3 linked regions of the Homo sapiens genome follow. The protein of the gene in region 1 purifies or fractionates together with the protein of each later gene. This does not show direct contact. Each region holds a gene or a part of one and is shown in the gene's direction. Other genes may lie near its edges. The genes, in order: PCDHGB4, POP4 and GRAMD1B.

Region 1 (3,748 bases):
TATGATGAATACTTTTTTCAGCTTGGATATACCATAAATATAAAAATAATAAAGCCAAAGAATTTAAGCTAAAATTCAACACTTTTCTTAACTAATTTAACTGGTATGGTCTCCATAGTAGTCCACTGTTTTGTTTCCTGTGTTAACTTCCCTTTTGTTTCAAAAGCTCTTAGAATAAGGAGTCAACTGGATTTTTATGTCCATGGACCCCTTGTGATTATATGCAGTGTACGCTGTGTGTGCGTGTGTGTGTGTGTGTGTGTGAGAGAGATCCTTTTACTTAGAAAAAGGTCTACTATGCTCATTAGAAGATCAAAAGCAGATTCTCCTTACTTGTAACATAGGAGTTTCAGGATTAATCTGTATTCAAGCTCATTCTATATCCTTCATCAAAGAAAAGACAATGTTTTGTGTCTGTTGTCCCTCTCACACACAGCCCTAATATATAATGTGTAACTGCCTTATCTGCAGCCCTAAACTAATATAGCTAGAGGTCTTCTAATCATTCTCCTACCTCTAGGAAAGAAATATAGTCTTGAAAACTGCCAATCTGGTGTGCATACAAAATATATACAAAATACCAAGGAACATTATATGAGCCTTTTGCTAGGTATATCTAAGCAACTGCTTCAGTTAATGGCCACTTTACAAATTGCTGAAAGAAGGAAACGTCTTTCGATTCTTTTTTTTTTCTTTTTTTTTTTTTGAGACAGAGTCTCTGTCTGTTACTCAGGCTGTAGTGCAGTGGCACAATGATAGCTCCCTCCAGCCTCAAACTCCTGGGCTCAAGCATTCCTTCTGCATCAGCCTCCTGACTAGCTGGAACTCAGGCTCATGCCACCAGACCTGGCTAATTTTTCTGTTTTCAGTAGAGAAAATATTTTCTTTCACTAATTTAACTGGTATGGTTTCCATTGTCTACCCAGTTTTCCATATGCATAAGAAAATATATTCACAGGAAAATATAAAGTTTTCAGATTTCATGAGTGGTTTTAAGAAAGTTTTAGTCAGTGAAAAAACTATCATACCAGTCTTCAAAGGAAGGGTGAAATAAGTTCATCTGCTACGTTGCCCAGGCTGGTCTTGAAGGGAAACAGACTTTTTTGTAGTCATACTTATCCTTTGGCTTCTTAGTAAGTATTATATAGTCATTACTTTTTGCAGTTTTTTAGATCAAAGTGTTAATGTAGGTAAAGTTAATTTTAGAATATATGTAAAAGTCAAGTCTGCTTTAAATTTAATCATCTCTTTGGTGAAAGGGATGGGATGGAGCTTTGCTTTTTATCATATATTCATCTGTACCTTTCAAGTATTCAAATAGAAAAATATAAACAATGTAAATAAAATAGCAAAACAATGTAATATCTCATAAAACTGCAATGGTAAAAGCATTTATCCTATTGAAATTCCACAATTTTTATTTGAAAATATTATCGACATGTAATTCAAGTGGCATTTAGAAGAATAATTTAAAAGCAACAACTCTATAGAAAGCTTGTAAAATGATTAAGTAGTTTAAACCAAATAAAACAATTTCTGAGTCAGTCATCTCCAGTAGGTCTATTTTAGTCTCAAGATAAATTCATTTCTGGTGACAACTGAAGTTCTTAGTTATTTGTTAGTATATATTGGAGACATTTACAATAAAGCTTAGAGCACAATGGGAAATGAAAGTATCATGTTTTTTTTAAGACCAAATGTATTGCAGAAATGTGAGTAATTTAATCCGATGCTACAATCTGATCATTCTGATCTAATCTGATCATTTAATAACACTAAATAAAACCTTCATCTCACATTCTTTGGCTGTTTCTTTTAAAATATGGGTTTACGGATAAATCAAATAAATTCAAAACAAAGTAATAAGCAAATGATTTTTTTTTCTCAGTAATCTAGTAGAGTATTACATTTAGAAGTAATCTGTATCTCAGTGCAGTAACTATTTAGGACTGTAAGCGCCGCTGTTCACCTACTGGAAGACAAATGCAACCGAAAACACTCAGATCTCACACCTCACGAAGACCCGCAGATGCCACAAACTAACTGCTGGACTGCAGCGAAACCCGACCCCTGTTTGGAGGCACTCCAGGTTTCCGGAGGATTGTCATCTCCATAGCTGCGGCAAGAAACTAAATAAGACCCATTTATGCACAGTGAAGATTCTGAGAGGATTCTGCAGCAAAACAACAATGGCCGCTCCACAGAGTCGCCCCAGACGCGGCGAGCTGATCCTGCTGTGCGCGCTGCTGGGAACGCTGTGGGAAATCGGGAGGGGACAGATTCGCTACTCTGTGCCAGAAGAGACGGACAAAGGCTCCTTCGTGGGTAATATCTCCAAGGACCTGGGGCTGGACCCCCGGAAGCTGGCGAAGCACGGAGTCCGTATCGTCTCCAGAGGTAGGACGCAGCTCTTTGCTCTGAACCCGCGCAGCGGCAGCTTGATCACCGCGGGCAGGATAGATCGGGAGGAGCTCTGCGCTCAGAGCCCGCGGTGTCTGATAAATATTAACACCCTGGTTGAGGATAAAGGAAAACTCTTTGGGGTAGAAATAGAAATAATTGATATTAACGATAATAACCCAAAATTCCAGGTCGAAGATCTAGAAGTAAAAATTAACGAAATCGCGGTTCCTGGAGCACGTTATCCACTCCCAGAAGCTGTTGACCCGGATGTGGGCGTGAACTCCCTCCAGAGCTACCAGCTCAGCCCCAATCACCACTTCTCCCTGGACGTGCAGACTGGAGACAATGGAGCCATAAACCCAGAGCTGGTGCTGGAGCGCGCCCTGGACAGGGAGGAAGAGGCTGCTCACCACCTGGTCCTCACGGCCTCGGATGGCGGCAAGCCGCCTCGCTCTAGCACAGTGCGCATCCACGTGACAGTGTTGGATACAAATGACAATGCCCCGGTTTTTCCTCACCCGATTTACCGAGTGAAAGTCCTTGAGAACATGCCCCCAGGCACGCGGCTGCTTACTGTAACAGCCAGCGACCCGGATGAGGGAATCAACGGAAAAGTGGCATACAAATTCCGGAAAATTAATGAAAAACAAACTCCGTTATTCCAGCTTAATGAAAATACTGGGGAAATATCAATAGCAAAAAGTCTAGATTATGAAGAATGTTCATTTTATGAAATGGAAATACAAGCCGAAGATGTGGGGGCACTTCTGGGGAGGACCAAATTGCTCATTTCGGTGGAAGATGTAAATGACAATAGACCAGAAGTGATCATTACGTCTTTGTTTAGCCCAGTGTTAGAAAATTCTCTTCCCGGGACAGTAATTGCCTTCTTGAGTGTGCATGACCAAGACTCTGGAAAGAATGGTCAAGTTGTCTGTTACACACGTGATAATTTACCTTTTAAATTAGAAAAGTCAATAGGTAATTATTATAGATTAGTGACAAGGAAATATTTGGACCGAGAAAATGTCTCTATCTACAATATCACAGTGATGGCCTCAGATCTAGGAACACCACCTCTGTCCACTGAAACTCAAATCGCTCTGCACGTGGCAGACATTAACGACAACCCTCCTACTTTCCCTCATGCCTCCTACTCAGCGTATATCCTAGAGAACAACCTGAGAGGAGCCTCCATCTTTTCCTTGACTGCACACGACCCCGACAGCCAGGAGAATGCCCAGGTCACTTACTCTGTGACCGAGGACACGCTGCAGGGGGCGCCCCTGTCCTCGTATATCTCCATCAACTCTGACACCGGTGTCCTGTATGCGCTGCAATCTTT
Region 2 (3,748 bases), on another chromosome or scaffold:
TAGTCACAATGACGAGAGTGAATTAATTTTTAGTTAGCATCTACAGGTGCAAAGCTGAAGCAGAGTTCCCACCATCATACTGTGAGCTCCCTCGAAGGCTATATGTACCCTATCTTCCCATCCCCATTGCTCTCCCACAGAAGGAAGGCTGCGTTACTATTGACAGATCAGCATCAGTCTGTCAGCCTCAGTCTTAGCATTTAGCACCTGGCTAGTGCAAAAAGAGCTCAGGAAACAGCCCAGCCAGGAGACAGGCCCTCAGGAGAGAGAACTGCCCAGGTCTGTGGCAGGCATGAGGGCAGTGGCATTGCCACCAAATGAGGAATCCGTTATTGGAACTCCAACCTGAGAGGTAGTGAGCTTGGAGGGTTTCTTTGTTTGTTTGTTTGTTTGTTTGTTTGTTTGAGAATTGCACACAATTACGACAGTCATTTTTCCCAGAAGTCCTCTCTAAGAGCCTGTGCTCATTCATGGTAAGTTGACGCCCTGCTCTCAGTGACACCCTTCAGAGAGAGCGAGCCTGGGGCCTGAGATGCTCTCGACGGTACCTTCCTCCAAGTGATGGTCTGCGGGGCGGGAGCGGACCTTTTGGAGAGTGGCCACACCATGCCCACAGAGCTGGAAACCCGGTTAAGGAGTATTGTCCTAAGGGCACAGTGTCAGGGTCCCTGCGCCCTGAGGCTTGGCCGACCCTGGAGCCCTAGTTTTGCTGTTTTCTGTAGTGTTAGGATCACTTCCTCCATAGCTTAGTGCTACTCTGAGCTCACTTTCATCTGGTCATGCCTGGTTGAATATATTTGTTATACATTTCTCAAGCTTTCTCTTCTGCCAAGGATGAGAGAATTCTTCTTCAAGATAGAAAGGTTTTGGTCCTTTCAGAATAACCTCAGAAAAGCAGGGCCAGAGCAGGAAGTGAGCGTTTGACACGCTGTTGTGTGTGACAAACGGTCATGAATTGGTGTGTGAGTGTGACTTACATCTCGGCAGCTGTGGGTAGCAGATGCATGGCGGATGAGCAGGTTGAGAGCCTCAGTAGGTAAAGGGATGGGCCCCATTTGCTCTTGCAGTAGCTGCCGGGAATGGCGGGCGGGATGCCTGGGATCCTGGGCTGCCCAGACCGGAGCAGTGAGCGCCGCACCCCCTTGTCCGCCTGCAGCCTTCAGGAGCACAGCGGGCCGAGGCCTTCGTGAGGGCCTTCCTGAAGCGCAGCACGCCCCGCATGAGCCCGCAGGCCCGCGAGGACCAGCTGCAGCGCAAGGCGGTGGTCCTGGAGTACTTCACCCGCCACAAGCGCAAGGAGAAGAAGAAGAAAGCCAAAGGCCTCTCTGCCAGGCAAAGGAGGGAGCTGCGGCTCTTTGACATTAAACCAGAGCAGCAGAGGTAACCCGAGCTCCCCACGTCTTTCTGCCCGCGGTGCTTACCCTTCTTGGTGTGTGAACTTGGCTGAGTGGCTGGGGAGGCAGCCTGGCTCCACCTAAGCTAAGGGGGCCTCTCTGTCGTCTGCCACAAGAGGGCAGCCTTCCTTTACCAATCTGGGCTGTGTTCAGCGAGGCGGGTGAGACAGGACTCATTGTCTGGCCTCTCTCCTCACCTTCAGGAGTAAGACCCGTGCAAGTACATCTGTTGCCCATGGCAACAGGCTGTTTGTCCTTCGGCTTTGTTAGACAGAAAAGAGGAACTGATATGTTTTTAGTGTGTATTACTTTGTAGCTTTTGATAGAGCCAGACAGTCACCCACTCGGGTTTCATTGCCAAAGCAAGATGTTGCCCACACGTTTCAGAAGTTTCCAAAAGGAATGCATCACTGTCCTGTCCTGTGGGAGGATGTCTTCCTCCAGCCGACCCGCCATCCCTCCTTGGTGACGGGTCTGAGTGTGGGTGTCTTGGGGCTGTCTGTAGGCTTTTGCTTGGAGATCAACGGCCAAATAGCCTCCCACGCTCCAGAAGACGCTTAAAGTATGCCATGCTGTTCCCGGCCCCACTCAGGAGATCAGCTGGGCCTCAGGTGGAGAAGGGGCTGCTGCCTCCCAGGGTTTGCCTCCCGGGTGGAGCCCAGGTTGGGTTTGAGCTTAAGGTCCTCATTTCTCTAACCTAAGGCTTTGTGGTAACGGATTCCCCACAGGATATCAAGACTGGAGATAATGGCCCAGAAGAACGCTGTTGGGGTCCTTGCCCCTGCTCCCCGCTTCTTCTCCCCACCACTTGCTTGCCCACCTTCCAGACCAGCCTGCTGCCTCACATGAGGACCTGCGTGACAACCAGCAACCCCTGCTTTACTGGGGGCTTACTAGGTTCAATTTCACGTAACAGAAAACCTCAAAATAACAGTAGCTTCAACAAGACTCACGTTTATTTCTCTCTCATGAAAAGAAGTCCAGGTGGACACCGCCCTGGGCTGGTGTGGTCCTACCAATGAGGAAACTGAGGTTAGAGAGGTGTAGGTTCTTGGTCTCGGTTATCAGCTCAATTGCTCATCGTCGGATTTGCACATAGTTCCTAATGATCCCAGGTTGCAGTTGTTGGCATCAAGTCAAGCTCTGTGCTATTTGGACATTGTCATCCCAAGCTCATGTTGTCTAACTTTTTCCCTGTTTCTGACTTTGCTGCAGATACAGCCTTTTCCTCCCTCTCCATGAACTCTGGAAACAGTACATCAGGGACCTGTGCAGTGGGCTCAAGCCAGACACGTAAGTTGCATTCCTGAAGCTTTGCTCTTTGGGGTGGATCTCAAGCCTCTGATCATTGTAAATGCGGCTTCAGGAACCAGCGTTGGTATTGCCTGGCTGCAGACGGTTAAAGACCTAGTTGCTTCTTTTGGAACTTTTTATCATGATGTAAACCAAGGGCTTCTGTTTACCCTGCAGGCAGCCACAGATGATTCAGGCCAAGCTCTTAAAGGCAGATCTTCACGGGGCTATTATTTCAGGTAATTTACCTAAGAGCGTGTAGCACATGGCCATCCAGAGGTTCACTCTGTCACTCTGTGGAGACCCAGGGCGTGTGTTCTGTTGGACACACTCTTTACCGTGTGGATTCCCTGAGATGGCCCCCAGTCACCATCATCCCCACGCTAAGGGTGGGAGATGCTTCTCGCTGGCTGTCTTAGCCAGTCCGGCCATTTGCTGGACACACCCTAAGTGGTCTCTGTGTACCTTCTCCACACAGGGACCCCTGTTGGTACCCTAAAGGGCACAGTGGCTGCGAGCACTCACCCACGGCCTGGGATCTTGAACACAGAATCCCTTTCATCCAATGCTGTGGTTTCAAATGTCAGCTACACCTGACAGCCCCCAAGGTGACATCTCCAGCGTAGGCCTGTCCCCTGAACTCCAGGCTCAGGCATCCAGCTGCCCACTTGACATAGCCACCTGGATGTTCAGGGGGCATCTCAGACTTTACATAGCCAAAGCTGCCACCGATTCTCCTCACAGCAACCCCTCCTGGTCTTTTCCATCTCAGTTAATTACTCAGTTATTTACACTGGTTGTTCAGACCAAAAACCTAAACAGTGTCTATGTTTCTTCTTTCCTAATCTCCTCGAATCCTTCGGAACATCCTACTACTTAAATTCAGCCACTGTCATTCCCCAGATTACCTCAGACACAGCTCCTCACCGCACCAGGCAGCCAGAGTGCCGGTTACGTAGAAATCAGAGCACGTTCCTTCCCTGCTTCAAGTCTTCTGGCAGCGTCCCATCGTATGGGAGTAAACCTGCCTCCTTGCTGTGGTCTAAGGCCTCCCCGCTCCC
Region 3 (3,748 bases), on another chromosome or scaffold:
GAGGAAGAAATATTTCCCTTGGTTTCCCAGCCTCTCAAAAGTTGTGTAATGTCAGGATGCCTTGAGCTTTTCCATACTTGACAAGTGTCATTGCAGAGCTTGGTAGATCCATAGCCAGCTGTCATCCTTGATGTCTTGCTGAACTGCAGGGATGTATTTACTTGCAGTGAATTCTTGTGATCTTTAGGGATGTGAATTTTCCTCAGCTTCGGGACACTTGTGAAATGTGACTTTTGTCCTGGCACGGAAGCTGGGCATTGGCTCCCAGATGGAAACTGGACTCTGAGAGAGGCAGAAAAGAAGGGTGGATCAGATTGTGGACTTCATGGTATGTTCTTGGGTGCTTCTCATGATCTCTTTGAAAGTTACTGACCAGGCTGGGCATGGTGGCTCATGCCTGTAATCTCAGCACTTTGGGAGGCCAAGGTGGGCAGATCACTTGAGGCCAGGAGTTTGAGACCAGCCTGGGCAATATAGCAAGACCTCATATCGACAAAAAGAAATAAAACTTAGCTGCGTGTGGTGGTGCGCACCTGTACTCCCAGCTACTCAGGAGGCTCAGCTGGGAGGACAGCTTGAGCCCAGGAATTCAAGGTTGCGGTGAGCCATGACTGCACCACTGCACTCCAGCCTGGGCAACAGAGTGAGACTTTGTCTCTTAAAAACAAAACAAAACAAAACAGTTACTGACCCAAGAGACAAATGCATTGGGCTGGGGTTGAAGGAGGAGAATGGCTGCTACAGCCCTGCTCTAGGAGCTGGGCTGGGTTAGACTCAGTGCCCACAGAGAGCACCTAAATAGGATGGATCGGTTCTAGGGTTGATGATCTCTTAGGGCCTGGGTCTAGAGAGTGAGTGTGGTTCAGCACATCTTGGGATGCTACCAGGACTGAACCAGACTTCCTAGGTTCCATGACATGGGGACATACTGGATTCTGTGACTCAGTCCATGGCAGGCTGAAGCAGAACTGAATCAGCCCTCAGCAATGTAAGGGGGGGTACCCTCGACTCCCTGGGGCTCTGTTGGATGCATTGCTTTGTGGGTGCTCACCGACTCCTCATTTCATTCTTTGCTAGGGACGCGGCTATGGTACTGGCAGCTGGCTCATGTACAGGGTTCAGGCCCCATTTTCCTTACTGGTCCTGTGTCCTTTGTCTCTCAGACCCTGTTGTCTGTCTTTCCTTGGTATGTCATGTCTGGTATCCTCAGCTCACGCCGCCACGGGAGAACTGTCCTCTTCTCAGCTTGTCATTTTGGAAGCAGCCTCCAGCAACCTTGCTTTCCTCCTCTGACTATACTCCGGCCTGCAGTGCCACTACTCACGCCCCCAAATAATTTAAACTGCCTTTCTTAGGAGACAAGAGCTAGTTGAAAAGTCTCCTCATTTTCCTTCAACCCTGTATCATGGGTGGCCTGAGAGAGTGAGGACTGAATTCATTGACTCCCCTTTCTCTGCACCCCCCACCCCCAAGGAAATAGCCGAGTTCGACTAATGGGAGTTGCCTGGCCAATCGTTGCCCTGAGAAAGTTTGGTTTGTGATCCTATTTCAGTAGGCTGATTGGAGCAGCCTTTACTTGGAGGTCGAGTCCCTCCCCGAGGGAATCCGTGTACAGTTACACTAGCGGTCGCTGCCAGTGCTAGCCCATTCAGGATAGCCCCCCTCACCCCGCCCCCAGCCCCCGCTCCTCCTCCTCCTTTTTTGTTTTTATCCAGTGTCTCGCTTCCTCTCTCTCTCTCTCTCTCTGTCTCTCTCTCCCTTTCCCTCCTACCACTGCCTCTTCCTCCCGCTCTCTACCTCCCTGCAGCGCCAAGCCGGCTCCCCAACCTGGTCTGCTGAACGCAAACCGCTGAGAGTTTGCTGCACCGCCCCCTGGGGCCCCTGGCTGCCGAGTCCCGCTAAGGCAAAGACGCCAGCAAGCGAGGAAGCGCAGCGGAAGAAAAACAAGCGGGCGCGCGAGGGGAGCCCCAGGAGGGCTGCCGAGTGGCTGGCAGGCGGCTCCCGCCCCTCCCGGGTGGCCTCGCCGGCGGCTGACGGCCCGGAGGACGCGCGCTCCGAAAAGTTAGACTCCGGGCGGCGGCGCGCTACGCCGCGTCCCCTCGCGTCCCTTCCTCGCTGCGCTCCGGGAAAGGAACTTGTTCCTTCGGCCCCAGGATTGGGGAGTGTGCCGCGGGGCCGAGGGTGGGGAACAGCCAGAGGGAGACGCGAACCAGGCCGCTGGCGGAGGGCTCAGGGGGAGCGCAGAGGCGACGGCCCCCATGCCGGCGGCCAACATGATGGAGAACCGGCCGCTGCCCGCCCTGCAGGTGCCCGAGCCGCAGGGTGCGCCCGAGGGCAGCCCGGTCTGGTCCAGTTCGTCGACCCCCACGCTTCGCCGCCGGCGCTTCAAGATGCGCCGCATGAAGAACGTACAGGAGCAGAGCCTGGAGGCCGGGCTGGCCCGGGACCTGCCCGCCGTCTTGGCCCCCGGCAAGGAGTTCCTGCAGCTGCCGTCCATCGAGATCACGCCCTCCAGCGACGAGGACACCCCGTGGTCCAACTGCTCCACACCCAGCGCGTCCCCGCGCCGAAAACGCTTCCTCCTCCGCAAGTGGCTGAGGGTGAGGGAGCGGAAGGAGTGCAGTGAAAGCAGGTACGTCCCCGTTCCGCCCGTCTCCTTCCCTTCCCTCCCGTCCTCTCCAGAGCCGTCCAGGGCCCCGGGGCATTCTGGGGGAAACGTCCTGGGGGAGAACAGGAGCCCGTCACCAGAGGCGCTTCTGGAGGGCGCTGCGCCTGGTCCCAGGGATGGTGGCATTCAGCTTCCACGCGTGCCACCCGCTCCCCAACTCAGGGTGAGGGGCTTCATGTTGCACGACACGTTTACGTGGGGCTTTACGCTGCATTCCATCTCCCTTGATCCTCGCAGCGAAATAAATAATAAAAATAATAACAGCTAATAGTTATTGAGCCCTTACCATGTGCGGGCCACTATGTTGCGCACTTCATGTACCTCCAGATTTCATCCCTACGCAAACTCTCTGAGGTAGGTATTACTATGGCTCCCTTTCTACAGAAGGAGATAGTAAAAGGCCAGAGAACAGTTAAGTGGTTTATATTTCAGGACTCCGTTTCAATCTTATTTTATGTTTGGCCACACCGGATTGCCTTAACTGGCTCACTTGTGTGGAAGTGAAATATTGACATTGAGTGAGTCACATTTCCTACCATATCAGAGTCTTTAGACATCGATACCTACAAGACTGTGGTTTGTACCAGCTAGTTTTTTGCCTAGGTCAATGTGGCATCTGGGTAATGGGAGAAGGTTGAGCTTCCCTCACGTAGAGAATTGCTGCAGGGCGCCCTAGAGCAGCTCTACACAGCCCTGGTCAGGACTGCTGCTTCAGGAAGTTGTGTCTGAGCCAAGCCCCTTGCCTGGTGGAGGGCAGGGAGTCCTCACTTGTTCATCGGTACCACGAATCCTACATATTTACTTTGAGACTTTAGGGTCCTGTCTCTTAATGGATTTGTGTTCTTGTGCGGAGCAACTGAGTCATTGATCACTTTCCCTGGAATTCCTTCTCCAAATCTGTTCAATTACATTGATTTCAATTCAGTAAGTACTTACTGAATATTTCTGTGAGCTCAGTCTAGTAACAGCTAATAGTGGTGATGTTGAGGAGGGTGTGGGGGAAGGATAGGTAGAGTAAGGGGTTGTAGAGGCTGAGAAGGAAGATGAGGGGAGGCTTGTATAAGAAATGAACACCTGGGC

Evidence for each region.
Region 2: the proteins of PCDHGB4 (region 1) and POP4 purify together in Homo sapiens (affinity purification with mass spectrometry; 2 studies listed by BioGRID and IntAct, with this or other methods). This does not show direct contact.
Region 3: the proteins of PCDHGB4 (region 1) and GRAMD1B purify together in Homo sapiens (affinity purification with mass spectrometry; 2 studies listed by BioGRID and IntAct, with this or other methods). This does not show direct contact.

Annotation. Positions count from the first base shown.
Region 1 is NC_000005.10:141,390,625-141,394,372, forward strand, and holds part of PCDHGB4 (protocadherin gamma-B4 isoform 1 precursor), read left to right. Parts: intron 1-2,008; exon of another isoform or gene 2,009-2,189; coding exon of another isoform or gene 2,190-3,748. Other genes in the region: PCDHGA8 (protocadherin gamma-A8 isoform 1 precursor), read left to right, coding at 2,190-3,748. UniProt on the Homo sapiens protein: Potential calcium-dependent cell-adhesion protein. May be involved in the establishment and maintenance of specific neuronal connections in the brain.
Region 2 is NC_000019.10:29,609,253-29,613,000, forward strand, and holds part of POP4 (ribonuclease P protein subunit p29), read left to right. Parts: intron 1-1,156; coding exon 1,157-1,380; intron 1,381-2,609; coding exon 2,610-2,687; intron 2,688-2,864; coding exon 2,865-2,926; intron 2,927-3,748. UniProt on the Homo sapiens protein: Component of ribonuclease P, a ribonucleoprotein complex that generates mature tRNA molecules by cleaving their 5'-ends.
Region 3 is NC_000011.10:123,428,535-123,432,282, forward strand, and holds the start of GRAMD1B (protein Aster-B), read left to right. Parts: upstream 1-1,734; 5' UTR 1,735-2,258; coding exon 2,259-2,632; exon of another isoform or gene 2,633-2,680; intron 2,681-3,748. UniProt on the Homo sapiens protein: Cholesterol transporter that mediates non-vesicular transport of cholesterol from the plasma membrane (PM) to the endoplasmic reticulum (ER).